4 linked regions of the Homo sapiens genome follow. The protein of the gene in region 2 interacts with the protein of the main gene of each other region in a pairwise test. Each region holds a gene or a part of one and is shown on either strand. Other genes may lie near its edges.

Region 1 (8,562 bases), on a different chromosome or scaffold from region 2:
AGTGCTTATAACCACCTCACATGGTGGCCACGTGAGAAGTTTGTGTGTGATATGGTGTGGCAGCATGGCAGGGTGGAAGTATCACGCTCTGTAGCCAGACAGACACACATTTCCCTCCTGCCTCCACCACTTATGGGCCCTGGGGTCTGCTGAGAACCCTCCACATTTGCTGTGTGACCTTGGGTGAGTTACTGGACTTCTCTGAACCTCAGGCTCTTCTTCTTATAAAGTGGGTACAAGATAGCAACTTGGTAGAATTGTGAGTGATACATGAGCTGGTGAGCCCCACGTGTTTGGTATATTACCTGGCACGCTGCCGGCATGAAATAAGTGAGAGATTTGTAGTTTTATTATATTTTATGTGGGTATAAACAGGATGATTTCTGAGATTTACATTCTACCTGTTCTATCTGTATCTCTCCCTTGGTAAAATAATGGGTTTCAGAGACTCATGGCATGTGCAAAGGTGGTATTTAGAGACTGTTCAATAAAATGGGGTAAGGAAGTCCCTTGCATTTCAGTTGTATTACCAAGGAATAGCAGCAGAAAAGATTTCAGGCCCAAACTAATAACATCGAAGCAGACTTAATATGAGGAAATTCCATTAAGGGCTTCGAATGGCAGTTCCTTCCAATATCCCATCCTGTGTTTTGTATCTTTGAAGAGTCTCAATAGGATTATATTAACATATGATATGCTGGTGGCAGGGACGACAGCTTTATCTCTGAACATACAGACAGAACAGACAGAAATATTAATGTGGCAGCCAGCGAGATGAGCCTGGTGTGCTGCTCTCTGCCTTTCTCTGATGGAATAATTTTACACTTAACTCTGTTTTCCCCTGTGTTTCTGTAGCTTGTGGAAGAGCGTGCTGTTTAAAAACTGATATGAGGCTTTTCTGCAGTAAGTTTAGAAAGCACTCTTTTCACTGAGCATGTACTATATACCAGGCAGCCTGAAACCACTTTTTACCTGCAACCCTGTGAGGTCAGGCATGTCTTCCCCACTTCTCATCAAGGCACCAGAGGCTCAGAGAAGTTGTATGACTTCCTTAGGGCCACACAGCCTGTAAAAGACAGAGTGGGCTTCGCCAGGCTTCTTCCATGTGATTGTCTCCAGTTCCTTCCTTTGTAGTTTGCAGATGGGGTCATCTTACTCTTGCTGATTGGACAACTTGAAGGCTTCTTCCTGCACTTAAAGGAATTCTACCTCACTCCCAACTCTCCTGCAGAAATGGTAAGTTTTCCAAGGATTTTTCTTTATGGTCTACCTCTAGGTGAACAGATATACAGAACTGGCATGACCAGTCTGTTTATTCACTTCCAGGTGAAGTGAAGGGTGTAGGGGAAGCTTATTTGTCTATATGTCTGCCTATCCATCCATCCATCCATCCATCCACCTATTCACCTATCCATCCATCTACCCATCCATCCATCTACCCATCCATCCATCCACCCACCCATCCATCCATCCATCCATCCATCCATCCATCCATCCATCCATCATCTACCTATCTATCCATCCCCATCTACCCATTATCTACCTACCTGACCGCCTATTAGCCCTCCTGTTCACCTACCAAGCCACCCACCATCTATGCACCCATCCATTTAACTGCCTACCTGTCCATCCACCTAACTGCCTACCTGTCCATCCACCTACCTGCCTGTCCATGCACCTATCTTCCTGTCTGTTTATTCATCTACCCAGTCCATCCATCCATCCATCCACCCACCTACCTGCCTGCCTGTCTACCCACCCATAGGAAGTTTATCTATATGTCTGTCTGTCCATCCATTCATTCATCCATCCACTTGCCTACCGGTCCATTCACCTGCTTGTCCTGTCATGCATCCATCTGTTTGTCCTTCAATCCATCTTCCTGTTCTGTTTATTGATCCACCCAATTTACCCATACACTTGCCTGCCCATCCACCCACCTGCTCATCCACCCATCCCCTACCCACACGCCTGTTCCCCCATTCCCTGAGGGCCTGTTTAGTGCCAGGCCCTGAACTGCATGGGATGTTAAGTTGATCCAACATAGCTCTTGCTTTCAGGGAGCTCTCAGTCTGTGCCCACTGTTCTCCTAGTGACGTGTGGTCTTGCAGGGCCACAGTGAAACGTGTTGGTTCAGATGCCTGGGTCAGAGGAGGGGCCTGGAAGAATGAGGGCTTAGAATAATCTCAAGGAGTCAGGAAGGGCATTGCATCAGAGGGGAGCCGGGAAGTTGATCAGGGATTGGTTTGCAGAGTTATCAAGGAAGGGCTTGCAGAGGGGAGGGAATAGCATCAGCAAAGGCTCAGAATGTGGCAAGAACAGGAATGGGTCAGGGAGGTGTAGGTGCTTCACTCTGGCTAGAGGGGCTGGAAGGGTGGGGCCTGACCTGGGGGGATCAGCAGTTCCCACGTGGACCCTAGAGGCTGGTGGACTGGCTGGGAGCTGGCTGCCTGCTTCCAGGCATGAGGGCTGTGGCTTGACCTGGGGAAGAGGGATGAAGAGAGTGATGGAGGTGGGGTGAGAGGGCAGGTGAGCCTGCAAAGATGCAGCTCCCACCGCCTCTTCCCCAGGTACAGCCTTCAGTGCCCGCTGGCTAGTCCTGCCTCCGCCCCCGCCAGGCCCCTGTGGTGTGTGCCACCACTTCCTCCAGCTCCCTGGGCTCTCCCATCTCTGGGCTTTGCCACAAGCTGTTCCCTTCCCAGGAGCACCCTTCCTACCAGGTAGGCCTGGCCCATGAGAAGGGATTTTACTACTTTCCAAATAAGGAAAGAGAGGTCCACGGGCAGCCAAGGCTTACCCCGGGTCACTGCCAGGCAAGAGGCCTGAGTCTTGTGCTCTTCGCCACCAGCTCCCTGCCTGCCTGGACCTCAGGTTTTCTGTCTCTGAAAATGGGCTGACAATCCCTGCCCCCTACTCAGGCCACACAGGTAGTAAGAAAGAGTTTGGAGAACCATCGAGGAGAAAGCATTGAGGGACATGTGGTCCCTAGTATCCCCAGGCTTGCCTCTCACAGGAGGTGACATTGGAGGCGTGCATCCCAAAGGACAGGCTGGAGTGTTGGTGGCTGGTGGCGTGCCCAGGATCCCGGGCAGCCAGCTTATCTCCATCCATGCCAGGGTTCCCGTGGCCTGGGGCAGGAGGACCTCTTTATCTCTCTGCAGCAGTAGCTTTTTCTAAAGAGGTGAAGCAGGAGGCAGGGCCACATGCCCCGTCCCAGGGCCAGCCTCTGGGGCTGTTTCTGGGAGAGACAAAGGCTTCCATCCCTTTCACATGCTCAGGGCGTCCTTGGCCCTGGATCAGGCCTCTTGGCCTATCTGGGGCCCAGTAGCAGGTGAGGTCCCCCCTGGACCCCTACCAGACTCCCCCTCCACCTAGGCCCTTCTTCTAGGCCGCTCCCCTTAACCTTCCTGGACACCCACCCTTGTGCCTCTCCCCTGCTTCAAGTGGAGCACCCAACTGCCAAGCCCCATCTGCCTCCCCGACCACGTCCCCTCCTCCCTTCCTGCCGACTCCCAGCCACAGCCACAGCCACAGCCACATGACCTCTGGCCCCCTTCCAGCTCTCCAGGGCCTGGTCCTCCCCCATTCCCTCACATCCACGCAGGCTGTGCTCTCAGCCCAGCCTACCCTGGCTTTGCTTCCCACCTGCTTCCCTGGGCGGGCGGCCAGCTCTGCCCACCTTCTCAGCTCCTCTGCAGTCCCTCGGCGCTCTGTGGGGCCCTGTACCACAGTCCACACTCCCTTGGGGTTAGCTCCCTGCACTTTGCCTCTCCTGGCCCTCTCCCCACTCACCCTCCCTCCTTGCCCCTGTGAGAGCGGGGCAGGGCTGCATCTCCATTTTACAGAGGGGAGCCCAGGGCCCGAGAGGCTTACCCAGTACCACCCAGCTGCTCAATGGCAGCCTCACACCAGCACAGCCTGCCGCCCGCAGCCTGCCATGTCCCTCGCCCCCACGGGGATGCATCTTGAGTGGGTGTGGCCTCCACCTTCCCTGGAGGCCAGGTGCTCTGGACTTGGTTCCCAAGAGCTGGGATGTTGGGTCAGAGCAACGAGGCCGGGGCAGTCAGTGTCTACGGTCCTGGTGGTTGTGGCAGGCACGGTGCCTGCTGCTTCCTAGGTTCTTCCATTCGGAGGAGCTGCATCAGCCAGCCATTGCCACAAACGTGCTGCTTAACAAACCACCCGAAAACCTAGGGGCTGAAAACCATGCTCATTTCTTCCCACAGACCGGCAGGTCGGCTGAGTTTAGCTGCTAGAGGCTCAGCTAGGCTTTGTCACTCCTCCGAGGACTGGATAGGGATCAGGCTGTCGTGGCTGGGTGGCTCGGCTCTGTGCCACAGCCTGCCATGTTCCTTCTGGGACCAGCAGCTGGCCCGGGCACGCTTTCCTCCTGGCAATGGCAGACACATGAGAGACCAGGCAGAAGGCATGAGGCCCTGGCTCAGAATGGGCAGGCTGCCACTTCCATCGAAGCAGGCCCTGTGGCCTTGACAGTGACATGGGACAGCCCTGCAAAGTGTGTGGGTGCAGAATTGGGCCGATGGTGGGATCTCCCACGGGCAGTGTGGACGAATGTGCTAGCAAATCCTCATGTTGGGTCTTGGAGTTAGGAACTCTTCCCATCCCCACTTCCACAGAGGAAACAGTTGAGAGAGGCACAGAAGTCTGGCCCAGAGCACACAGTGAGTTAGGGTCCTCCCTGTTTCCCTCCTGTGGAGCCAATGTGAGTCTCTGGGAGATGGAGGGGTGGCAGGGCTCAGTGGGGTTGAAGCCAAGGCTGAGACTGGGGTCAGAGCCTGCCTCGGGAAGGCAAGGCACTGAAATGTGAGCGGTGAGGAGAGAAGGCGGAGGAAGGGGGCAGGCAGGACCACCTGCGGGCTGAGGGCCTGGGGCTCGGAACCCAGCTCAGAGCCACTCTGGGGTGCCCCTGGGCTGCAGGGCCTCTGCTCAATCTGTTGCACCATCCAAGCCCCAGTTACAAGACGGGAACAAACGTGCAGACTTCCATGTTGCTGTGTGCAGCCGCTTTGCTGAATCCACTGATTTTAGAACTTACTTCTGAATATGAGTCAGATTAGATGTGGGGGAAAAGCAGCAGCCTCTTAGCTCAGACTCCAAGAATGAATTTTTACAGCATATTGTGGGCAATCTCTGCTGCAGGAATGTGTAATCAAAATGCTGAAGAGGTCGTCAGCTGAGGAGGGCGGGAACACCAGCCCTTGCTGAAGGTGGGCCTCTGCGGAATTGTTATCTTGGCAGAGTAGCCTCTTGAAATTGGATTTCTCATTATCAGACCCTCTTTGCTGATGGTGTTTATGTGAGATAGTTATTCATTGTGGGCACGGAAGTTAAGGATGGAGGGAGAGAGGATCATTCGCTCCCAGAAATAAAATCCCCGGAGCCAGGAATCCTTGGCGTCCTTCCACGTTAAATTACTTTCCCCAGGAGGATTTGCACGTATCCTCCCGGGTTGTAACCTTCTCTCAGCTCCGTGGAAGGTGGTAGTTTTATCTTCATCTCAAGCCACACGCGGAAGAAAAATCTCTGGACAGAGCATCATGAGATAGCTCTGGAGCCAGGGTCAGCTCTTACTGGGGGATGATCTTTTGTTCAGATTGAGTGTCATTGAGGAAGAGTGTGACAAACAGAAGCAGATGTCATAATTTTCAGTGTCGATAGCAATTCCCAAAGCATAAGCTCTATGAGGGCAGGAGGTCTGGTCTGTTTTGAGCACTGGTTGTATGGCTAGCACATAGTAGATGACAAGTATTTTTTTAAATAAGTGAATGAACGAAGTGTTTCCAAAACATTGGTCCCAGGAGGTGTTCTGTGACAAATGGGTTCTATGAATAAATAACTTGGGGAAACATGTCTAGTCTTGAAGGTTCATGCGGCCCACCAACACATTCAAGGCTCTAATAAGTCCTGCAGTGAAGGACTTCCATAGTATTTTATTTAATCCAACAATTTCTAAAAACGTTTGGCCACAGATATCCCCTTTCCTGTCCATCTTAGATCACAGTTTGGGAGATGCTGGCTCGCTGAATGTATCAAAGGCGGAGCTTTGAGGCAGGAGAGCACAGTGCGGAGTCTGGAACCTCAGGTTCCTCAGGGTCTTGTTCTCACTCCGACATTTACTCTCCATGTAACTGCAAATAATATTCGTGATGAGAATGCGAACAATAGCAACAATTGCAACCCTAGTTTCCCAGAATATTCCAGTCTAGGAGGAAGAACTGGGGACACAGTGATGGGAACTTCCGGTGATGCTCTGGTCTGTCCACTCGGAGCTTCCCATCCATCTTGGTCTGGACAGTCTCAGAGTTTCACCCCGCATTGGCCCCTGCAGCATGCTGCAACATTGGTGCCGTGTGATAGCCTTTGTTTCGCTCTTGTCACCCAGGATGGAGTGCAGTGGTGCAATCTTGGCTCACTGCAACCTCCGCCTCCTGGGTTCAAGCAATTCTCCTGCCTCAGCCTCCCAAGTAGCTGGGATTACAGGCACGTGCCACCACACCCAGCTAATTTTTGTATTTTTAGTAGAGACAGGGTTTCACCATGTTGGCCAGGCTGGTCTCGAACTCCTGACCTCAGGTGATCTGCCCACTTTGGCCTCTCAAAGTGCTGGGATTACAGGAATGAGCCACCGTGCCTAGCCTGTTTCTTCTTGTTGGCTGACTACAGAGGAGCGGCCCTGCTGCTGCTGCTGGGCACCCTGCCCATACACTCCTTTCCATCTGGGACCCGCCCTCCATCTTCATGTCCCCACGTGGAGAAGGACTCTGCTCACCCACTTCCAGCTCCTATGCCTTCATCATCCTCACCTTCAAATCTTGCTTTGTGGCTTCAATTCTGTGTCCGTCATCACATTGGACGCACATGGCAGCCTTGGAGAGGAAGGCAGACAGGTGTATCATCCCCGTGACACAGATGAGGCACCTGAGGCCCAGCCAGGATGTGTGACTTGTCCGAGGTCAGACACTTAGTGGCAGGGATGGGGGTGGCAGTACACAGACATCCAAGCTAGATCCCAAGAGTCCTCTTGCTCGGGCCATCCAGCAGGTGGCTGGAGGTGGCCTGGGCCAGGCTGGCGTTTCTGGATGAGTCTTGCCTGGCCTTGCTCATCCACCGCTCGGCCAACCTGGCCTCTTGGCCCCTGGCGGGTTGCCATGGGAACTGCCCTGTCCTGGTGGGGCTGGTGTGGCCAGGCAGATAGGGAGGGAACGGGACCAGCACAGCTGACCCCCGGGCTGGGATGTCCACCCCGTCTAGTGGATCTACGGGTGGCTAAGACATTGAAGGGAGGACCTGTTTGAGGTCACAGTGAACCAGGAGTTCATCCCTCTTCACCCACACCAGGCTGCTGCCCTAAGGCAAAGGGCTGGGACCTACTCTGCTTGTAGACGAGGCCCAAGGGAGAAGCTAGAATGGAAAGGGAGGGGACCTACTGTGGGAGGGCCGGCAGGCTCCTGGGCTCTCACCATATCCTGTAGCAAGGCACAGGGGAACTGTGGTGAGCCCACTTTGCAGGGGAGCAAGGGGAGGCCCTGGGCAGGGACTAAGCTGAGCTCTGAATCACTGGGGGACTTGACTGATGCCCGGGCGCTCTCCACCCTAAAGGGAGCCATCTCTGAGACTGCACCCCAGGCAAGGGGTGGCGGAAAGGACAGCCACCTGGGTGGGGACCGCTCCAGTCTCTAGCCTGCTTTGCATGAGCATTGGAGCGGACAGACCTGGTTTGAGCGCTTTCTGTCTCGTGAGCTCCAGTGAGCCCCTTGGCTCCTCTGAGCCTTGATTTCCTCACTGTGCTTTGCCCTGGGAAACAGCTGTTCTCAAAGGTGCTCTGCCACCCCAGGCCCTTGCTCCTTTCCCTGGGTAGTTCTCCCTGCCTGGCGGGACTCACCACCAGGCTTCACCTCCACCAGGAAGCCTTCCCTGATCCCTATTGGGTATCCTCCTTGGCGATTGCCTTTTTCACGGGCAGTGGCCCCTGGACGCAAGCGTGTGCCCAGTGTGGTATAGCACCTGCTCAGAGTGGGGCCTGTGAGTGGCTGAGGAATGAGACATGGATTGCTTGTGTGACAGAGTGAGCTGTAGGGAGATGCTGGATGACCACGGATTGTGGTCGTGGTCAGGGATGCCCACCTTGGATGGGAGTTTAGGCTCATGATGGACATCACAGACAACAGGAAGGGCTTGGCACTTGGGACCCAAGGCCTGGCCTGGGGCTGCTGCTTGTGCCCACATCTGATAGGGCCTTGTCATCATAGCTGCACAACGTCACCCTGGCGCTGGAGCTGCTGAAGGACGAGGGCCTGCTCAGCTGCCCTGTCAGCCCTGAAGGTGAGTGCAAGGCAGATGCCCACACGGTGGCCAGCCCTGGGTGGCAGCCTTGTGCGAGAGCCACAGAACAGGGTGCAGGGCATTGGGGGATGAGCACGCATTGGCAGAGTCCTCTTGCCTGGCAGGGGTGGAGAATGGGCGCTTGCCAAGGTTTCTTGGGAGGGGGCACTGCAGCCCCAGGGGAAGAGGTTCTGGGGAGGGGGAGACCAAGGTCTCTGG
Region 2 (9,383 bases):
CAAATTGTGGTTTTAGGAATATTTCATGGTTTATGTCCCAGGTTTGTGAGCCTTACTTATTTCGTCTTTCTTCAATGTTAATGATAAACCCTTGCACAGCATCCTTGATTCTTGCTCGCACAAGGCTGTCCAAAATCTTGCAGTCATTGTGCTGGTCCCACTCAGCTTTCAAGCGATCCCGCTCACTTGACTTAATGGAAGCCAAAATAGCATTATGCTTCTGATGGCTGCGTCGGATTCTTTCTAGATGGTGCTCAGCTCCTTGGCCTTTAGGAGGCTTGGATCTCTGAAAACAAAAACCAACTATCACTTATAATAAGCCAAAGAATCAACTGCATATTTTCAATTAGTTATGCTCTCAATCAATACTCATACTAAATAAAATTGGGTATAAAAAACTAATACATCCTACTACAACTGAATACAGCTTATGCACCTAAAGAGTAACTTGTTTCATTCTCTGAGCCTATACCTAAGATGTCATCAAAACAGTCTCAAATATTTCTAATGTGCCATTTGAAAAATAGTTGATGGAAATTACAAAGTTAAAAATGTGAACAGGACTCTGTTGAGATTGTCTAGTCAAACCCAGAGACATTAAGTGATTTGCTGAACTTGCTTCAAATAGGGCAGATAAAACAAGAATTAGAGGTCTTCTAATTCCCGACCTTGACATTGCCACTCATTATTCCACATTATTTCTCACGGTTGGACACCATAGTTATCACATCAAAATACTTTCAATGAAAAGGTGCTACTATGCGAATATATAGAAAAAATATACATGTGTGTATATACATGTATATGTGTGTGTGTATATATATGTGTATATGTATATGGATATATAACGAGTTGTGATAATGAAAGATCTTTGACTAAGAAGGAAGAAATGAAGTGAGGGAGGAAGAGAGGAGGGAAAAGAAAAAAAGCTGGTGGTAGAACTTTATTCCTATTTCTATGGTGCCCAGAAGTTTTAATGCAAAGAGTGTGTTCCTGACCTTTTGGGCTACTTTGAATTTCTATAAATGTACTGTTTTTACAGAAATGTCCACTAAAAAAGTTAGAAATGCATGTACCATTTGAATATATATAGATACACTTAATGAAATCACATAGCCTATATCTTTTTCCTTTCTGTATTCCTAGCATTGAACATAATGCCTACTACAGTGAGGTCCTCAATAGAAATGAATGAATGAATGAGTGAATGAATGAAACAATGTTGCTGGGTGGGCTTGATGCAATTTCTGCACCTCCTGGAGCCACCATAAAATCCATAGTCTTGAGCTTTGTATTTTCAGGAACAGTTTTATCAAGTCATCCTTAGGTAAGTTGTGAGATACTGGGGTGCTGATTCACAGAAACAAAACTCTTAAGAGACAGAGAGTCAATCTGATCTTTTACATTTAGAATATCACCATCAGGATTACCAGAATACTAGGGTTAGGTGTTTGTAATGAAGTCTCCTGAGGAAAGAAAATCAACATTTGAAGACAGTTTAATGAAAAGATTCAGGGCTCAGGGTACACATATAGGTACCTAGATTTAGCTGAACAAGATAAGGCAAGCCTGGGGTGGTAAGGAGACAGAAGATGATGCTGGGGGTTATATCATGGAAAGTAGCTAATCCATGTCATAATTATCTGGAGCCTAGAGCCAGCTAATTAGATGACTGTTCTCCAATACAGTTGGCATTTTATGAATATAGATCTGTGAAAATAAAGCAGAGGAGGATCACAGTGGCACCCTTGGCAGCATACACAGCAGGAATTAAGGGTCCCAGTGTGAGCTGAGAACAGGAATGAAACACCAAGTAAATCTAGAAACACTGGCTCCAGTTGTCAGGACAGGAAACAGGGCTGAGGGATATTTTGGCTGAAGAGGTGACAAATACCATGAGCAGTACCCAAGGGGTCAGGAAGCCTTTTAAGGCTTGGGAATCATGTGAAGGACTCTGGTCTGGGAAGGACCCAATCTCTTGATAAGTTAGGGGTATGACCTGGAGTTCTCAAAAAAGGTGATGCCAATCCCAGCACAGTCGTGGTATTGTTCAAAGTCTGTACTGTTCAATATAAATATAATGCAAAACAGATATGTAATTCTAAATTTTCAAGTGGCTGCATTTAAAAAAGTAAAAAGAAACAGGGGAAGTTAATTTTGATAGTATATTTTATTTAACCAATATATCCAAGATGTTATCTTGTCAATATGTGACTCTAGGCACATTTCAAGTGCTCAAATGCTATGTGTGACTAGTGGCTACCTATTGGACATCACAGCTCTAAACCATGCTAAAGTCAGGAAAACACAGGATATTTTACTAACTACTGTGGGTTTTCAAGGTCACTGAAGGCTGTTATTGTAGCATCTCCAGTTATAGTTATTAGGATTACAATTTACAGTTCGGTTGTCTTAAAGAACAATGCTTTACATCCTAGGTTTGATTCTGGCCTCTGTCCATTACTAATTGAATGGAGCAAGTTACTTAATCTCTTTGAATCTTAGTTTTCTCACCTGTCAAATGAGCAAAATAAGTATCCTCCTAATGGATTCCTAGGAGACACTCATCAAATAGCTGCTCCTTTTGATGTCCCATTACTTCAGACATTAAATTTTTCACAGGTTTCTCCTGGGGAATTGTTTAGGGTCCAAGTCTCATCTGCTGGTGGCTTTAATTCTTGCAACACAATTCTGCTACCTCTAACATCTATCTTTCTTATCACACTCAGACACCGGAGGAGCAGATGCACCAACTCTAACCTCCTCCTTTTCCTCTTAATTCTTCTTAGGTGCAAAGTATTCAATAAGCCCGCTTCTCTGGTTTAGTGTTTTTGTTTGTTTTCTGTTCCTTATTGGTTCCCAACACAAGTAATAGCACCCAACAATGGCTCAGCCCCTGAGCCCAGTGTTTGGATACAGAACCCAAAGTAGATCTTCTGTCCTTCATGAAGTGTGTTTATAATTATCACCTTGAACCCTACAGCCTACTTATGTGTCCCATCTACTGCTTTCCAGCTCCAGATCTTACAGTACTTGGACCTAAAGAAGGAGCAGGTCTATAGGTTGACTGAAGTTTGCTATGTGCACTGTGGAGCATAATAAAACTGTATCACTGATCTTTCATCCATCAACTGACATCACAGACAATATAGCACATCATTATTTACCGTGCTAACCTTTAGTGGTTTCATTCTACCTAAGTTTTTTTTTGCAATTGGATTACAAGTTGAGCACCCCTAATTTGAAAATCTGAAATCTGAAATGCTCCAAAATCTGAAGCTTTTTGAGCACCCACATGATGACATAAGTGGAAAATTTCACACCTGACCTCATGTAAGGGGTCACAGTCAAAACACAAGCAAACAACACATATTTATTCAGCATCCCCAAGGGGAAAATAAAATTACCTTCGAGGTAATGAAATATAAATAAATTCTGTGTTTAGACTTGGGTCCCCTCCCCAAGATATTGCATTATGTATATGCAAGTATTCCAAAATCCAAAAAAAAAATCTGAAATCCTAGACATCTCTGGTCCCAAGCATTTCAGATAAGGGATACTTGACTTGTATAAGCTCCTTGAAGGGAGGGCTCAGGCTTCAATAAAGAGTTAACCTTCCAGGATCATTGTATCCACCCCTGTATCTCCCACAATACTGCGCACACAGCAGGGGCTCAAGCAATAACTCTGCCTACATGTTAGTTTTCTGGTGGGTAGAAACTAATTTGTAGAAACAAAAAAATCTACATGTATGGACCAATAGTGTCTGAGGTTCTCAGCAGGAACCATCAAATTCTGCAGCAAGCACATTTTCCTGGCCTACTACCACTCCAGCCTTAGAGGCAGGCACCTGAGTTTTTCCCAGGTCTGAAGGGACACTTCTGTCCAGCAATGGTTACTGGTTGAGTTGGCACAGGAAAGGCGTTGGGTGCTATAACCACTCACAACCTAATTCCCCTTCCTCAGACGATTTTCCTAGGAGTGAAAGACCAGCTCCAAATCATAGGCCCGCCCTGCCCCCAGATCTGTCTCTGGGCCGGGTGCCCTTTCCATAACACACACTCGCCACTGCATGGGGGACAGACATCCTTCCGGTGTCTTGGAGACTGAAAAACCCTAAGATCCCTAGTGGTGATTCTCCAAAAACAGAACCTAAATATTATAACTTTGGGGGCAGATGAAAGGCTGTAAGGATGAAAACAGAGGGAGATGAGTGGGTGAGAGGTGGGGTAGATAGGTGAGCGACCTTATCTTCCTTCTTTCAAAATTCAACCCACTGCATCAGGCGACACCCGTTCCCCTCGAGAAGGCCCCGGGTGGGGGCCGAAGTGGGATAGGCCAGGCCTGGAGTGCGGAGAGATGGAGAAAGCTGTAGGGTCTGGCAGACATATCCTGTGCTTACCACGATCACCACTTTGGGGGTGGGGCCCTTAACCTCCCGCTGTACGGTGCCAAACCGCTGGCTGTACATTTTCGAGTCCCCTTCGGGACGGGGGCGGCGTCCGCCGCGTTTCCCCCAACCGTGGCGACCTGCGGGACCCGCTTCCGCGACGCAGAAGTCTGGTTGCCATGGTGCGCCTCGCGGGATTAGGGGCCGGTAGAGGTGGGCGGGTCGGGCGGAAGTCGGTCTGGTCACCATGGGGGCCGCAGACGCCTGCACTCGGGACTTCCTCTTCCAGCTGAGAAGCTGAGCCTGCGCAGTCCTCACCCCGCCCCTCGGCCAAATCCCGCCGACCTTGCTCCCTTCCTCCAGGGTTCATCAGAATGGCAGAAAAAACCTCTAGCCCAAGAAAAATCAAAGCTCTAATTACAATTCCAGTTGACTTTGCTATTTATATCTTGTAATGGTCTAAAAGTATGAAAAAGGTTAGCGAACATTTTTTGGGAAGCTTAAATTTTGCACTATCTGTAGGTTAATCTTGATGACGGTAATAATCACAGGAAAACCTTATATTTGTGTAGTTCTTTACAATTTCCAAGATATTTTCACACACACAGCCTTTTAACCTCACAGATTTTTTCTGAGACAAGGTCTCGCTCTGTCGCCCAGGGTGGAGTGCAGTGGCGTGATCATGGCTCCCTGCAGCCTCGTCCTCCTGGGCCTCAGCCTCCAGAGTATCTGGGACTACAAAGCCTGCGCCACCACGCCCTGCTAATTTAAAAACAAATTTTGAAGAGACAGGGGGTCCCGCTATGTTGCTCAGGCTGGAACTCCTGCTCCTGGGTTCAAGCGATCCTCCCCACTGCCCCTCCCGCCGGCCTCCCAAAGTGTTGGAATTACAGGGTGCGCTACCGCGCGTGGCCGCAAATATCTTACAGGGTTGATAGAATAGCAAGTAATACTATCCTTATTTTCCAGCTAAGGCAAAGCTCAGGGAGCCTAAGTGCCTTGTCAAACCAAATAACCAGTAATAATAATAATTTTTTAAAACCTGTTAATAAAATCTTCCTATTTGCCATTGGCAGAAACCAGGGCTTAGACTCAGGATATCCTAGGATGGGGGCAGATCAAATGGACTAGTGGGGCAGTGGCACGACCTGGTGGAGCATAATTAAGAGTCTGAGGGTCACAGTGGACCAGGGTCAGGATGTGGATCAGAAGTCCAGTAACTGGTTTCTGAGAATCAGGATCCAGGCAGAACAGGAAACACAAATCAGGGAACCAGGACGGACCTGCAGCACAGGTGGTAACCACAGTTGCATTTCCAGTCAAGAGCAAGGTGGTAATACCTAAAAGCCAATTAAGAATGACACTGTGATACTCCCATTCTAAAGTGGGGGTGAGCATAGAACACTTGTGAGCACATGCAACAAATCAGTACCTACGTCAAACTGACATATAATAAGTACAACTAATGTGTATGCCCTCTTAAGGACGCAATTTACTGTAAATTAGCATTCCTTAATCATTTGTAAACCACCCACTTCGGATTTTGTATGTGGTATGTTTCTAAATACGAATTCCATTTCCTGAATTGCTGGTTCAGCTTTTCAGCCACGAAATAATGTTTTTCTTCTCTTTTAATAATTCTGTCATTTTGTGTTCTTTTCTATAACGGTTCTTTCAATTGCAGTTCAGTAAAATACGCATTTGCATTTACTAAGAGTTTACGTGGCCTGAAACAGAAAACAAACAAATTAGGTGGTCGTCTCGGTTTCCTGGAGTGTCCAGAGGGGCGGTTCTTTGATCTTCGAGTCCAACGGGCTCCGGGCCCGCCCGTCGGTCCGGGCGGAACCACCCCCACCACACATCCTCCGGGAAGGCGGCAATGAAAACGCCTTGGGCCCGAAGTACGGCTTGGGAAAATCGGCGCAGATTCGGGGCCGCCCGTTGGGGATTCCCAAGGTTGTGCAGCCCAAAGGGCCTCGTCGGAATTTCTGAGGCGATGGGGTAAACCGACCCTTGGCGACACCCGGCCGCACTCGAACGTCCTAGGTCGTCGAGCCCCGCCCTCACCCTGGGCGAGCTCCGAAATTTAACCCCGGTTCGGTTTTGCCTGTTTTACCACTATTTGAAGAGGGGGACTCAGCTTCCCTCTGGCCCTAGCCCAAGTACTGGGGTTTGCGCCGGACGGAGACCACGCCCCAGGGCGGCCAGGCCAGGGGTGATGGGTGACGAGCGGTGCCTCCAGGGCCCCGGTGGGTGACTGTGGCTGGGAACTACGGGCTTTCTCGCCCCGGCGCCCCCTGGCGGACCCACCAGCAGGTTGAAGGTGTCCGGCCAGTGCTGAGCACCAAGAGCCTCAGCCTTCAGCCAACCCCCCGCCCCCGCGGCCTAGGTAAGTGAATCGCTCAGGGTCCTTGGAAAGAAGTGACCTTGATTTGATCTTCCCACCCACTATCCCAGTTTCTCAGAGGCAGTCAACACTGTTCCCACCAAACCACTCCCAAAAGAAACACTAAGCATGTAAGTAAGTGGGACAATAAAAATTTAAAAATAATTTTAAAATAGAACAGCTTAGAGATAGAAACTAAATTATTTCCAATTCCTACTGTGCCCCAAACAAGGTTCACAAAAGGGCTGTCCTCCCAACAATTTTCTGAATTCTATATATTCAGCATTAAATTCCATGATAAAGTTGGAAATCCATTCACCATTTGTAATACATATTGATGCATTTAATAAAATTGCATGGGCCGTATCTTTTGCATTTCTGTATCCTAGTATTAAGTACAGTGCCTACCACAGGCCAGGTTCTCAATACTTGAATAAATGACACAAAAATAGCCAGGACCAGCAAGTTTTTTCTGGGTGGGCTTCATAGAATCTCTGTACTTGCTGGAATCACCATGAAATCCATGGTCTTCAGCTTTGCATTTTCAGCCACATAGTTATATTGAGTTATCCTCAGGTGAGCAGTGAGACCCTTGGGAGCGGATTCATGGTAGGGTGGCTTTGTAATGTGTCACCTTGGTGAGGCTATGTTTCCCGGAACTCTCTTCCAGTAAGATGGGCCACAAGAGACATTTTGCTTGATAACCGGAGGGCGGAAGTGAAGCAGCAGCACATTGTTTTTACACTTGGAAGGTTGGTGCTGGGGCACCAGGCGTTGTTGCAGTTCACACGTTGCCATGTATCTGCTAGATCACCTCGTTGGTGTGGGCAGTAGTCAGGCCTGCAGCCAGGCCTGCAGCTGCTCCACCTTCCCCAGGATCATCCTTTCAGCTTCTCTAATTCCTGGGCCAGATGCATATTTAACTCTGTGAGGAAGGGCACCAGCTTCTTCTGCAGGACACCCACATCATCGAAGCTGGAGGTGGTGAGAGACTGACATGGGTTCCAGGCCATCCTCGTGGGTTCCAGCTCGTGCTCGTGGGCTCCACTGTGTCCTCGGTCTCCCACACTTTACATCCATCTTCCCTTCCCGAGTGCCTGCCCTGCAGACTTCAAGCTCCAGCATTAGATGCAAAGACAACAGCCTTACAGAGACTGTTTAACCAGCTCCCACAATGGCATGCGGTCAGATCCCTATAATAAATCCCTTAAAATACATATATACATAATCTTTATCTTAGTGGTTCTGCTCCTCTGATTGTACCCTAACATAAATGGTCAGCAGAAGCTTAACTCATGAGTCTAAATGTCAATCAAATAAATTTCATATAGATCATTGTCAAAATTACCAGAATACTGGGGTTGGGTGGTTGGTTCCTGGGGGAAACAAAGCAGTATCAGTCTATCCAGTCTTGACTAGGGCTGAACTAGTTAGGATGGAATAAAGGAAGGGGTGGGGAAGGTGGCAGAGGCTGGACTGTATGAGACAGAACTGGGAAATGGCTAATCCATGTCTGAATTACTTAAAGCTGCAGGGCTGGGACTAGGGTAAGGCAAGGGAGGCACACAGGATACAAAGTTTAAGGAGGCACTCACTCAGTCCTGGCCCTGTAAAGCTGGCTAACAAATTACAGGTCTAATCTTTTTGGCACTTTATGAATGAAGAATTGGGAGAGAGTGAGGTAGGGCTGAGCCAAGACTGGCTCTTGGGCAGGACTCGAAGCAGGAATTCAGCCTCCTAGAACACATTCAGGCTGAGGGCAGGAGCCAAGCACAAAGGTGATCACAGGGCAGGAGATGCACGTTGTCAGGAAAGATGAGCCAGGCTGGCAGCTTTAGTTACAAAGACTGCTCTGGCTGAAGAGGGGGAGTCAGGGTAACAAGCAAAATGGACAGCAGCCAGTGGGGAGATATATCCTGTAGGGTTTGAGGAATCCTATGCAGCACCTGGGGTCTGCAGGAAACCCAGTTTCTGTATGAACAGATGCTCTGACAAGGTGACCCCATCTACATTGAGCCTTGGCACTCCCTAAACCATGCTAGAGACAGGAATGTAAGGGATTTATTATAGTAATTATAGTAATCTGTGTTTTCAAGGTCACCGAAAACTCCTGTTAGTGCATACAGGATTACAGGTTACAGTTTAGTGGAGTAAAGAACAAGGGCTTTAAAAGCTGGGTTTGAGTCTAGGCTCTACTAACACCAGCTGTTCGACATTGGACAAATTAATGAGTCTCAGTTTTCCCATCCACATAAATGGACAAAATCAATGTCTTCCCAAAAATATTATTTTAAGGATTAAATAAACTGGGTCCACAGAGGAACACACCAAATAGCAGTTCCTTTCCTTATTTATTCAATTACATTTTCAATTGCTATCTCCCTGAGGAAGTATGTAGAGACACTGCCAGGTCTCATCCAGAAGCCACTTACAATTACTCATGAACATGGCTTGTTTAGGTTGTTTTGTGGTGGCTTTAATTATATTACCTTTCTCCAACCCAGCTCCCCCACCCTTAAAATCCAACTTCTTATACTCAGGCTCTTGGGGAGGAGAAGATGCACCAACTTTCTACTCTTTCTCTTCCTTTCCCGCTTACTTCTTCTA
Region 3 (4,588 bases), on a different chromosome or scaffold from region 2:
AAAGATCACCCAGTTGAATCATATTTTTTTTTGTTCAGAAGCAAAAACTGAGGCTCAGAGACAAACTGTCCTGTCCAAGATTATACAGAAAATGGTAGGAAGAGTTGAGAAGTTTCTCAATAATGCCATGACTGTTGAATCATAGGAACAAAAGCCAAGAGATGGATCCTTACAATAGTTTAACAATATAAACCACATGGAACATTTCAAGAAAGAGTTAAACAATGATCTATGTTTAAAAGCTATCTCTACCTGGCATAGTATCTCACATCTATAATCCTAGCACTTTGGGGGTTTGAGGCAGGAGGATCGCTTGAGGCTGAAGTGAGCTGTGATCGCACTACTGCATGCCAGCCAGGGTGTCAGAACAAGACTCTGTCTCTAAAAATAATAATCACCATCATCTTTCTCATTAGAACACACATGCCAACCATCCCCTTCTCTGGCTACATTTTATAGTCAATGAGTGCTGTACGCAACCAACAAGCTTGTAACAACACTGCTGTATCATTCTGCTTTTATTAGAAGGCAATGTAAAAGAGTATTGACCTACACAGTTAGGCCAGAGGTACTAGCCAATCTCCATCCTCCAAGAAAAATGATCTCCAGTGGCTCAGAGCCACCTCAGTCCCTGTCCAGAGGCCGTTCGCCTGACTGGGACTGGACTGAGGTGGGCGGGGGTTCCAGGAGGGCATAAGATTCCTGACGGGACAAATATGTGTGCCAGGGCTAAACAGAACTGGCTGGAATGTTTTTCTTACCTCCCATTTCTACTTCATTATGAAAATGGTGGACTGGGCAGCAGTGAATGGGTCGATCTTGTGTGTCAGGTTATGTAATTACATAAACGACTGTATTAGCTTTCTGGGGCTATAGTAACAAGTCAGCATGAACTCAGCATGAACTAAGCAGCTTAAAACAACAGACATTTATTCTTCCAGTTCTGGAGTCTGGAATTCTGAAGTCAGGGCCATGCTTCCTTCTAAGGCTTGTGGGGAACCTGTCCCATGCCTCTCTGCTGGCTTCTGCTGGTGGCCGGAGATCCTTGGTGTCCCTTCCCTTCCGGCTGCATCACTCCAACTTGCCTCTTGTCCCCTGGTCTTCTTCCCACTGCATTTGTGTCTATTACCAAAACTCTCTCTTCTCCTAAGGATGCCAGTCATTGGATTTGGGGCCCACCCTAATCCAATGTGACCTCATCTTGACTATATCTGCAAAGACCCTATTTCCAAACAAGGTCCCATTCACGGGGATGGGGGTTAAGACTTCACCATATATTTTGGGGGAACACAATTCAACCACAAGTAGCATCCAAACAGCCTGCTTATTCTGTTCTTGTCTAAGCACTTCTGATAAAAAATAAAAAAATACATGTACAGATGCTTTATCCTTTTGGTGCACTATAGAGTATATCCAGGGGAGGCCAGGCCAGCCCCGGCCCCATTCTCCCGAACAAGAAAACAAACTCAGCGATGTTTGCTCACTTTCCTGCAGGTCCATCTGTATTTTCATGCATGTTAAGCCTCTCATTCAATTTACATTCATGACTTCTGTTTTTCTATGTCTCTCATGTCCTGGTTCCAACATGTACAATAAGTGAGGTGTGTTTTAAGCATCATCTCAGCCAGGAAAGGCTTTTGCTACCATTCCAAAGCCAACATGAAACTTCGAAACTTCATGTCAACAGGCCCCTGAAACCTCCTGAGATGATACAGAGGGAGTGCAGGGGTCATATGATAGATATTCGTTTTCAAGTACACCTTAATTTCTAAAAGTTTTCCATTTCTTCATTTGTTTTATTTTATGTACATCATTAAGGTCATACCCTTCATGACAGGTACTTGCTGAAATTGAGACTCTTCTCCCTTTTGAGCAGAGGTCATTTTCTCTTGACATTGAATTCCAGTATTTGTGCAGAAAAGAGGTGTCAATGAGGACTCCATGGATACTTTACTTTCAGTTGATCAGTATTGGCTCTGCTGCAGGGTGATTTTGGCTTCACACATAAATGTTGCAGTGGCATTTGTCCAGGGGAAAGCCCGCTTGGAGGCTGTAGGATGACCCTGATGGAGGCTGTCACTCAAACAGCTCCAGGTAGTCAGGCAGCTGGTCCTGCTGACCACAGGGATAGAGAAGGAGCTCCTTCCCCAGGGAAGTGATGGGTTCCTCCTGTCAATCAGAAGGCACGGGGTCAGATAGTGTAAGTAGTGACCACATGCTCTTCCTACTTCCTCAGAGGACATCACTAGCTGCCTACCCATGATTTACACAAAGCTTTTGTGGTTTATGATCATCTTAAAAGGCATTTTTCTTATCTACATGTGACCAGGTACTCCTTTCCCTTCAGGGCTTGAATTCTAACTTAAGGCCTATGAATTCTCATAGGTCAGGGGTCCCCAACCCCAGGGCCATGGACCAGTACCAGTCTGTGGCCTGTTAGAACTGGGCTGTATAGCAGGAGGTGAGCAGTGGAGTGAAGCTTCATCTGTATTTACATCTGCTCCCTGTCATTCACATTATCGCCTGAGCTCTGCCTCCTGTCAGATCAGTAGCAGCATTAGATTTTCATAGGAACACAAACCTTATTGTGAACTGTGCATGGGAGGGATCTCAGTTGTGCGCTCCTTAGGAAAATCTAATGCCTGATGATCTGTCACAGTCCCCCATCACCTCCAGATGGGACTGTCTAGTTGCAGGAAAACAAGTTCGGGGCTCCCACTGATTCTACACTATGTTGAACTGTATAATTATTTCATTATATATAACAATGTAATAATAAAATGCACAATCAATGTAATGTGCTTAAATCATCCTGAAACCATCCCCCAACACTGAGTCCATGGAGAAATTGTCATCCAGGAAACTGGTGTCACAAAGTTTGGGGATTGCTGTCATATGTGATCCATGTGGGTACAGCTTTTATTTTTTTGTTTTAGCATTTCCCGTATTCTCTGCCCCAGTGGGGTTCCCTGAGTATTTAAGGAAGAACTAGGTTCTAAGATAAATGAAATGTGATTAACAATCCTGATTATCAGGAAGAATTATCAAAGACAAGCCCCCACCCCTGTCCCCTCCCCAGTACTTGTCTCAGTCCTTTTCTTTGTAATTGTCATTCATTGTTAGAGCTGCTACAGGACAGTAACTCAGAAGGCAAATTAAGTTTATGCATTGCTTCACCTTGTGATATTCCACCAAATCCGCCAAGGTGGCATGCTGTAGCTGGTCCACGCCCAGGAAGCTGTAGGCGTCTGCAGAGGCATCGATGAGGAAATGTTTACAGCCGTCCTCCGACAGATAGGACAGGGCATAGCCTTTGATCCTTTCACTGACTCGGATGAGAAAACTGCCGGGCATGCCTGTGCTCAGAAGAAGTTCATTTGCTTTCTTGAGTGTGAGAATTCCTGTGGCAAAGCAAAAAAAGGCAGGTATTTCAGCCAAATCATTCCAGAAAATCCCCTCTGTTAAATCCAGCTGCATGGATATAGAGTCAATGACGCCTAAATAAGACACAATAAGAGCAATTTTAAGTCTGTTTTGGGCTTCTTAGGAATACGGAATATTCTTCTGGTATTTGCTAATTAGACATGAACAGGTTATAGAGGCAAACTGTATAAAAATCATGTATAGAGGTATACATGAGAGCTTAAATGTCAACCTTAAAAGAAGAATATATTTCTGGGCCAGGCGTGGTGGCTCACGCCTGTAATCCCAGCACTTTGAGAGGCCGAGGTGGGTGGATCACGAGGTCAGGAGATCGAGACCATCCTGACTAATACGGTGAAACCCCATGTCTACTAAAAATACAAAAAATTAGCCGGGCGTTTTGGCGAGCACCTGTAGTCCCAGCTACTCAGGAGGCTGAGGCAGGAGAATGGTGTGAACCCAGGAAACGGAGCTTGCAGTGAGCCGAGATCATGCCACTGCACTCCCTCCAGCCTGGGCAACAGAGCAAGACTCCATCTCAAAAAACAAAACAAAAAAAAAAGGAATATATTTCTACTTATACACCCATTTAGAGCAACACACAGGTGTTAGACGGTTTATAAGGGTCTAACAGAACGCCTTGATGGTCATCCTGGGAATGTTAGATCTGGGAGGGGATTTAAAGATACTCTCCCTAGGCTACCTCAGTTTACCAACAAGGACTCAATGGCCTGGGGAGTGATTTGACTTGGTCTAGGACAGTGGTTCTCAACCACTCGGACAAAGGTGTCCGAGAGACATCTTTGGTTGTCATGGATGGAGGATGGGGTTAGAGGTCAGGGATGTTGCTAAACAGCCTATGAGACACAGAACAGCCCCACACTGCAGAGAATTATCCAGCCCCAGATAGCAGTAGTGCTGAAATTGAGACTCCCTGGTGTGGGAGGCTCAGTAATTTAGTGACAGAGCCAAGTCAGACTCAGTTCTACTCAGTTCTATAAAGTACCTTAGCCTGTAGCTATTGCTAAATGACACTACACTGGCATTTAAAGGAATAAAACTATATGTGTGTCTTTATATACACATATGAAGTTATATATAGACATAGCTTAGATGCCTCAGGAATTCACACTCTTACTCCAGACCAGCCTTTTCCCCAGTTAGT
Region 4 (8,562 bases), on a different chromosome or scaffold from region 2:
GCCATAGGCCACACTGGCTTCCTGAGCTGTCTTGTGGCAGTATTAGCAGAGGCAGCAGCAGCAACCTTTCTGATCCAAGAAAAGATGCCATTCTCTCTTCCTCTGAGCCAGCAGACACCTTAAATCACGGTCCCTCTCCCCTCACAAGTCCTGCCCACACACTGGGAACAGAGCTCCTCCCTGGCTGCCCAGGCAGGAAAACAGGAAACAGCCACCACCCTGCCGGGAGGTGGGGCTGACAAGTTCTCTTTCCCAGGTGGGCATCTCTCCAGGTCATCAACCCTCCTTGATGCAGGAGGAGAGCTGGCTGCCAGCCCACTGCACAAGGCTGTGCCCGCTGCCACACCCAGGTCTCCGCCACACCTCGCCTTGAGGCAGTGGAATAAGTGGGCCAATGAATGGGGAGCAGAAAACAGTCTTCATCAGTGCCTTGCAGAAGTGCCAGAGGGGGAACCCTTTCAGTGCCCAAGTGGGGCAGGGAATCTGATCTCCTGGGCCATAGGGACACGCCCCATCCTTCTTAACGTGCAGCACCAACCCTTTATTTTTATTTTTTTTAATCTTCTTTTTCAGAGATGGGGTCTCTGCACTCCAGCCTGGGAGACACAGCGAGACTCTGTCTCAAAAAAAAAAAAAAAAAAAAAAGGACAGGGACCAGGGACCAGGGACGAGGGACCCTGATGGTGCCATATCAGGCAGGGTCTCAGAGAAGGCAGCAAAAGTTTTTGAAAAAGGGCAGTTATAAAAGTAGTTGTCAGTGAAGGGGGAGTATGGTGGGGGGAAGTGGGGTGAAAAACTACCTATGGGGTACTATGCTCACTACCTAGGTGACAGGATCATTCATACCCCAAAACTCAGTGACATGCAGTTTACCCATGTAACAAGCCTGCGCATGTACCATCTGAACTTAAAAGTTGAGGAAAAAAAGTGTAGAGGAAACAGAAGAAAAAAAAAAACCAAAATTCTAACAAGTGAATAAAAATAAGAAACTAGAACAGGAAAAAAAAAAAAAGAAGAAGCATTGTTGGGCCAGGTGCAGTGACTCAATAATCCCAACAATTTGGGAGGCTGAGGCGAGAGGATCGCTTCAGGCCAGGAGTTTGAGACAAGCCTGGGCAACGTAGTGAGATCTTGTCTCTGCAAAAAAAAAAAAAAAAAAAAAAAAAAAATTAATTAGCTGGGTGTGGCAGCACATACCTGTAGTCCCAGCTGCTCAGGAGGCTGAGGTGGGAGAATCACTTGAGCCCAGGAATTCGAGGCTGCAGTGAGCTATGATCGCATCACTGCATTCCAGCCTGGGCAACACAGCAAGACTCTATCTCTTAAAAAACAAAAAAGCGGCCGGGCGCAATGGCTCACGCCTGTATTCCCAGTACTTTGGGAGGCTGAGGTGGGCAGATCACCTGAGGTCAGGAGTTCGAGACCAGCCTGGCTAACATGGCAAAACCTAGTCTCTTCTAAAAGTACAAAAATGAGCTGGGCATGGTGGCAGGCGCCTGTAATCCCAGCTACTCAGGAGGCTGAGGCAGGAGAATAGCTTGAACCCAGGAGGCAGAGGTTGCAGTGAGCCGAGATCGCGCTACTGCACTCCAGTCTGGTTGACAAGAACGATACTCTGTCTCAAAACAAAACAAACAAACAAACAAAAATCACAGTGTTGGATTTGAGGGACACTGTCCAGAACAGGTGATTTAGAGGGCAGGCAGGATGAGATGACAAAAATCCAGGCAAGATGTAATAAGAGCAGGAAATGCAAGATTCACAGGATGAATGGGTGAGACAAGTCTCACAGAGGCACTCAACAGAATGCGGCTGTGAGGGCAGGAAGGAGGGAGGGCTCAGAACTGACACCAGAGAGAAGGTGGGGACCATTGTCCTGCCATGGGGCCGCCCGAGGGGGTACAGTTGTCCAGTGGGAAGTGGTCACTCAGGCTGGGAAGTCAGGAGGGAGATGTGGGGAGTCAGTGCCACAGAAGTGAGAACAGAAACCATCAGACAGAGGTGAGGGCAAAGGAAGTGGACAGGAGGTAAAAGAGAAGTGGGGTGAGGACAACGCCTTGGGGACCCCAAGCATAAGGAGGAAGAGAGCAGAGGGTGCCAGGCAGTGACAGAAGGACAAACAGAGAGCATAGCTATCAACCCCTGAAAGCCTCAATTTCCTCCTCTGTAAAATAGGATTTTTTTTTTTTTTTGAGACGGAGTTTCGCTCTTGTTGCCCAGGCTGGAGTGCAATGGCGCGATCTCAGCTCACTGCAACCTCTGCCTCCCGAGTTCAAGTGATTCTCGTGCCTCAGCCTCCCAAGTAGCTGGGATTACAGGCGCACGCCACCACGCCCAGCTAATTTTGTATTTTTACCAGAGACAGGGTTTCTCCATGTTGGTCAGGCTGGTCTTGAACACCTGACCTCAGGTGATCCACCCGCCTCGGCCTCCCAAAGTGCTGGGATTACAAGTGTGAGCCACCGTGTCCAGCCTAAAATAGGAATTATAATTCATACATGTGTTGCAAGGATCGAAAAGGGTGGCTCATGTAAGGCCTTTACCATTTGCACACAGTATGTGGGCAGTAATTTTTTTTTTTTTTTTGAGACAAGGTCTTTCTCTGTTGCCCAGGCTGGAGTGCAGTGGTGTGATCTCGGCTCAATGCAACCTCCCCACTTTCCGGGTTCAAGCGATCCTCCTGCTTCAGCCTCCCGAGTAGCTGGGATTACAGGCATGCACCACCACGCCCAGCTAATTTTTATATTTTTAGTAGAGAATGGGTTTCACCGTGTTGGCCAGGATGGTCTCGAACTCCTGGCCTCAAGTGATCCGCCCGCCTCAGCCTCCCAAAGTGCCAGGATTACAGGCATGAGCCACCATGCCTGGTCAGTAAATGTTGACGATTACCATTACCATCACTGGGAAGAAACTCAGGACAGTACAAAACCAGGGACCAAAAGAAAGCTCTTAACTTCCTTCTTAAGTTTTCAATACCCACTAAAGGAGCAAGGTTGGGGAGATAGAAGGGTACAGAAGTTTAAGAAGCCAGTTCTGGGCCAGGCGCAGTTGCTCCCGCCTGTAATCCCAGCACTTTGGGAGGCCAAGGTGGGCGGATCACTTGAGGTCAGGAGTTAGAGACCAGCCTGGCCAACATGATGAAACCCCGTCTCTACTAAAAATACAAAAATTAGCTGGGCATGGTGGCGCACGCCTATAATCCCAGCTACTCCTGAAGCTGAGGTGAGAGAACCACTTGAACCCAGGAGTCACATATTGTAGTGAGCCGAGATGGCGCCATTGCACTCCAGCCTGGGTGACAGAGACTCCAACTCAAAAAAAAAAAAAAAAAAAAACGCCAGCTCTGATTGTCAAGTAAATGGAAAAATGGGGTTCACGAGCAGCTCTCCTTGCAAGAAGGCACCTGCTCAGACTTCAGGCAAGGGGTGACTTCTTTGTGCACCTGCTCCAGAAGCAGAAGGGGTGGGGCGCCAGGTTCAAGGCTCAGGGTGCTACACAGCCTGGCTCTGAGCATTTGCATTCCTAAAGAACAAACCTGACACAGATGCTTCTTACCTGCAGGAAGCAGGCTTAGGGCCATCTTGGTTTTCTGAGTATAACCAGAACCAACTGAGCCACCCAAAGTCCGTGGGGTGCCAGGGGTGTGGGAACCCATCAGGACCCACGGTCACCATCTTGATTGCACATGAGAACCACCTGGGACTTTACAAAATGTCAATGATCACCCCATACCAATGAGACAGAATCCTTATGCAGGGGGCCCAGAGAAACAGTATTTTATTTTTTCAAAGAGCTCTCCAGCCAGGGTTGAGAACCGCAGATCCTTCTAGCCCAGCCCTAAAATTTTTTAGCTGCTGAACTAAGGCTGAGCATCTGCTTAAGATCATGAGCAAGAGGGCAGAAGTACCCGCAACGTAAACATGAAAAAAAGGACTTTGCCATTTGGTTGTGAAGTCCTGGCTTCTCGGTTCACTCGCTGTGTGACCTTGGACAAGTCACTTAGCCTCTCTGAGCCTGAGCTATTAAAATGAAATCATAGATATAAATCACCCAGCATGTTCCTGGTACCCAGCAGGCCCTCAATAAATATTTGTTTCTATCTCTTTCTCTCTAGGATCTAAGGCTCTTCTCAACGCAGGATGCATTAAGATCCTTTGCTCTGACGTATGCGCTATCCACCGACTTTTTTTGTTTGTTTCTGGCTTTTTTTGTGTTGTTTTTCCTTTTACAGGGTCTGGCTCTGTCACCCAGTCTGGAGTGCAGTGGTGTGATCACGGCTCACTGCCGCCTCAACTTCCTGGGCTTAAACAATCGTCCTGTCTCTGCCTGCCGAGTAGCTGGGACTACAGGCAGCACCACCATGCCCAGCTAATTATTTGATTTGATTTGATTTTTTTGTAGAGACAGGGTCTCGCTATGTTGCCCAGGCTGGTCTCGAACTCCTGGGCTCAAGCCATCCTCCCGCCTCAGCCTCCCAAAATGCTGGGATGATAAACATGAGCCACTGCGCCCGGCTCACCCAAAGAGATTTTGACTCTCTAAAGGTTTGTTCCCCACTCTGTGTCTTTTCCTCTAATCCCAGAACTCACCTACTACAGAGCACTGTTGCTCAAACATCAGCGTACACAGAGTACCCAGGGCTGTGGTGAACACGACAAGTCCTGATTCAGTAGTTCTGGGTGGTGCCCAACATCCTAATGGCCCTGGTGATGCTGGTGTTTCGGGGCCTGACCACATCAGAGCCCCAAGGCTTGTCCAGGAGCCCCGCAGTGGCCAGTCTGCCTCCCTGCTGACTCACGAGCCCCCCAGAGCCGGTCTCTTTATCTTACTCATCTCTGTGTCTCCTCCACGGTATGTGCTCACTAAACGGATGTTGAAGAAATAAACAAACCATGGAGAAAACCATTTTCCAGCTAAGTAAAAACAGACTATTTTATTTGTCCTGTGATTGACAGCCCTCCTGGCTGATTCCAGAATTGCCCTCTTGGCTGGTGGGAGGACAGTGTGGTCGAACGGGCCTGACACTTGGAACCTGGAGTCCTGGTTTTGAATCCTGGCCCTTCCACTCACCCGTGGGATGACCCTGGGCACGTTACCAAGCTCTTTGAGTCACGATGTCCTCATCCATAAAATGAAAATGATAATGACTGACCACCGTGTGGTCCCAATGATGGCTAGAAACATGCTTTATAAACTGTAAAGTACTCCTGATAAGGTCTCCTTATTACGGCTGGGTTTTCTTTTCTTTTCCTTTCTTTTCTTTTTCTTTTTTTTTTTTTTTTGAGGGCAGGCAGTACTTTTCACTTCCCTAAAGCTTGAAAGTGGCTTGTGATGGATTGGGTGGGGAACACACCAAGGGTCTGGTTGGAGATGGGTGCAGTGGCTGGGCCATGAGGCAGGTCAGTGGTGCCTCCTCTGGCAGTGACAGTGGCCAGGTGAAATGTGAGGATGGTGCAGGAGAGTTGAGGAGGCAAGGCTTCCTGGAGGAGGCTGGCAGGAGTAGGTATGCAAGGCTGGTCTGAGGGTATAGACGCCAGGACAGAAGAAGGCAGGCAGAGCAGTGAGAGTCTTTTGATGGGCATGTGGCCAGGCTCTAGACTGGGTATGCGGGAGGCAAGGCTAGACCAACAGCGACCCTGGAGCATTATAAGAAAACAAGTAATTATAGGCCGGGCACGGCGGCTCACACCTGTAATCCCAACACTTTGGGAAGCCAAGGCGGGAGGACTGCTTGAGCCCAGGAGTTCAAGACCAGCCTGGGCAACACAGCAAGACCCCATCTCTACAAAAAAAATTCTAGGCCAGGAACGATGGCTTATACCTGTAATCCCAGCACTTTGGGAGGCTGAGGCAGGCGGCTCACCTGAGGTCAGGAGTTCGAGGCCAGCCTGGTCAACAAGTGAGACCCTGTCTCTACTAAAAATACAAAAAATTAGCCGGGCGTGGTGGCGCTCGCCTGTAATCCCAGCTACTCGAGAGGCCGAGGCAGGAGAATCACTTGAACCCAGGAGGCGAAGGTTGTAGTGAACCGAGATGGCGCCACTGCACTCCAGCCTGAGCAACAGAGTGAGACTCTGTCTCAAATAAATAAATAAATAAATAAATAAATAAATAAATAAATAAATTTTAAAGATCAGCTAAGCATGGTGGCATGCTCCTGTAGTCCCAGCACTCAGGAGGCTAAGGCAGGAGGATCACTTGAGCCCAGGAGTCCCAGGCAAAACTGAGCTATGATGGTGCCACTGCACTCCAGACTGGACAATAGAGCGAGACCATCTCTTACATAAAAATAAATAAAGTAATTATTAATATATCCTGTGGCCCAGGGCTGAACTACCCACCTAGGCCCAGGGTTCCCTTGCTGACCCCATTCACCACTAACCATGAGCTTCAGGATGCAGGCAAGAGCAAGACACAGACCTGCCCTCAATAAGCTCAGTGTTCAATGGGGGCCACAGAGAGAAATGATGCCAGCACAAGGTCACAGGAACTAGGAGAGGTCACCAGCCCTGCTATAGTTCAGAGGAGGGAGTGGCCAATTTTGCCTCTCTGTCTACCCCAGCCAATGAGTCTCCACTGCACCCGCTGGGAAGTTTATCTGCCTAGTCTAGATGTCTCTTTATTTATGTTCTTCTGTCACTGGAATGCCCCATCCCCTCCTCCACCCAGCAAGCACTAACTCATGCTACAAGATGTGCTTCAGTCCTCGGGGAGGGCTCCCAACCCCAAAGCCTGTGCTTTATCCACGTGCTCTTGGTAATTATCCCATTACCTAGTACCACATCTATCCCTCTAAGGAAGAGTTAATCACAGCCTGCTTGATTGCTCACACTTCTGCTGTCTCGGGTTCGTCTCCCCAGTCAGATTATAACAATAATCACTGAACTAGTGCTCCACAGTTTACAAAATGCCTTCAGGCATATTGGGCTTAATTGAATCCCCACAATAAATCAGCCAGGTAAGTATTATGTTTATTTGACAATAAGGAAACCGAGGCTTAGAAAGGTTAGACAACTTCCCAGAGACCACAAGGCCCATGTACATGCCCAGCTGTAAGCCTCAAATGCCTTCTAACTCCAATGCCAGCATCTGCTCAGTACTCAGAGGCTGCCTGAGGCAGTGGGTAAAGGTTGAGACCGTTTCCAGCTGTGTGACTTCTGGTGAGTTACTTAACCTCTCTGTGCCTCAATCGTCCTGAGAGTAAAATGTGGCTGATACCCACCTCATCCGTTCTTGTCAAGATTTAAAAAGGTAATACAATGATGTCCTTAGAATACTGCCAAACACAATAATTAGTTAGTTATTATTATACCTTGGCTGATTCTCATGGTCTCCTAACTCATTAAATTTTTTCTAATTCATTTTTTATATCTCATAATACATTCTTCCCCTTTTTTCCCTTTGCTTACCAAGCTCTGCAACCTCATAATACATTTGATAGGTAGTCATTAAACAAAATAATTTTTTTGCAGATTGACTAACGTTGGGTTTAGGGCTGTTCTCTTTTCTTTTCTTTTCTTTTTCTTTTTCTTTTTTTTTTATTTGAGATGGGGTCTCACTCTGTTGCCCAGGCCGGAATGCAGTGGCACAATCTTTGCTCACTGCAACCTCTGCCTCCCGGGCTCAAGCAATCCTCCCACCTCAACCTCCAAAGTTACTGGGACAACAGGCACGTGATACCACAACCAGCTAATTTTATTTTTTGTAGAGATGGGGTCTTACTATGTTGTCCAGGCTGGTTCTTTTTCTTTACTCTCCTACACCCCTAAAGAGTTTCAACACCAGAGGCTGGGTGCAGTGGCTCACACCTGAAATCCCAGCACTTTGGGAGGCTGAGGTGGGAAGATCGCTTGAGGCTAGTTCAAGACCAGCCTGGGAAAACACAGTGAGACCTCCGTCTTAAAAAAAAAAAAAGTTAAAAATAAGAGTTTCAACATCAGAAAAATTCTCTTTTTCTGCTCCACTCTACTTCACCCCCACCCACCCCACCCAGGTCAAATCTGGCCAATCACAAATGTCCCACAGAATGTAAAACACCAGAAAACACTGACCTAGACTCTCCTGTTGGGCCGTCCCTGGATAGCAGGGAAACATACCACTCACGGGTGGAAACTTTCACAAACCTAATTTCTATCACTATTATGGGTCAAAGTCTTACGCATATTTCTCTATTGCTCTAGTTTTTACTTATTTGAGACTCTAGAAGGAACGGGTTGTTAAAAAATAATATCTATTTATTTTCTTATTTCATTTATTAAAAAAAAAAATAGGGCTGGGTGCCATGGCTCATGCCTGTAGTCCCAGCACTTTGGGAGGCAGAAGCAGAAGAATCACTTGACGCCAGGAGTTTGAGACCAGTCCGGGCAACACAGTGAGACCCCCATCTCTATGAAAATATAAAAATAAAAGGAATATACACACTGTTTCATGGAGCAAGAAGCCTCATGTAACTAGGCAGCTAGCAGAGGCACTAACATCCAAGACCAATGGAAAACTTCCTTCTTTTCAGGGGTCGGGTCCATGAAACCAGAGAACAAGCCTCAAACCTAGCTGGATCCTGGG

Evidence for each region.
Region 1: the proteins of CFAP53 (region 2) and PARVG interact in binary tests that used the Homo sapiens proteins (3 or more experiments, as listed by UniProt).
Region 3: the proteins of CFAP53 (region 2) and SH2D4A interact in binary tests that used the Homo sapiens proteins (3 or more experiments, as listed by UniProt).
Region 4: the proteins of CFAP53 (region 2) and HIP1 interact in binary tests that used the Homo sapiens proteins (3 or more experiments, as listed by UniProt).

What each region holds. Positions count from the first base shown.
Region 1 is NC_000022.11:44,197,487-44,206,048, forward strand, and holds part of PARVG (gamma-parvin), read left to right. Parts: intron 1-855; coding exon of another isoform or gene 856-879; exon of another isoform or gene 880-1,081; intron 1,082-1,134; coding exon 1,135-1,236; intron 1,237-8,270; coding exon 8,271-8,343; intron 8,344-8,562. UniProt on the Homo sapiens protein: Plays a role with ILK in promoting the cell adhesion and spreading of leukocytes.
Region 2 is NC_000018.10:50,261,934-50,271,316, forward strand, and holds the start of CFAP53 (cilia- and flagella-associated protein 53), read right to left. Parts: upstream 4,563-9,383; 5' UTR 4,472-4,562; coding exon 4,403-4,471; intron 287-4,402; coding exon 57-286; intron 1-56. Other genes in the region: MBD1 (methyl-CpG-binding domain protein 1), read right to left, coding at 7,696-7,885. UniProt on the Homo sapiens protein: Microtubule inner protein (MIP) part of the dynein-decorated doublet microtubules (DMTs) in cilia axoneme, which is required for motile cilia beating.
Region 3 is NC_000008.11:19,392,131-19,396,718, reverse strand, and holds the end of SH2D4A (SH2 domain-containing protein 4A), read right to left. Parts: intron 3,402-4,588; coding exon 3,178-3,401; intron 2,170-3,177; coding exon 2,077-2,169; 3' UTR 501-2,076; downstream 1-500. UniProt on the Homo sapiens protein: Inhibits estrogen-induced cell proliferation by competing with PLCG for binding to ESR1, blocking the effect of estrogen on PLCG and repressing estrogen-induced proliferation. May play a role in T-cell development and function.
Region 4 is NC_000007.14:75,728,165-75,736,726, forward strand, and holds part of HIP1 (huntingtin-interacting protein 1), read right to left. Parts: intron 1-8,562. UniProt on the Homo sapiens protein: Plays a role in clathrin-mediated endocytosis and trafficking. Involved in regulating AMPA receptor trafficking in the central nervous system in an NMDA-dependent manner. Regulates presynaptic nerve terminal activity.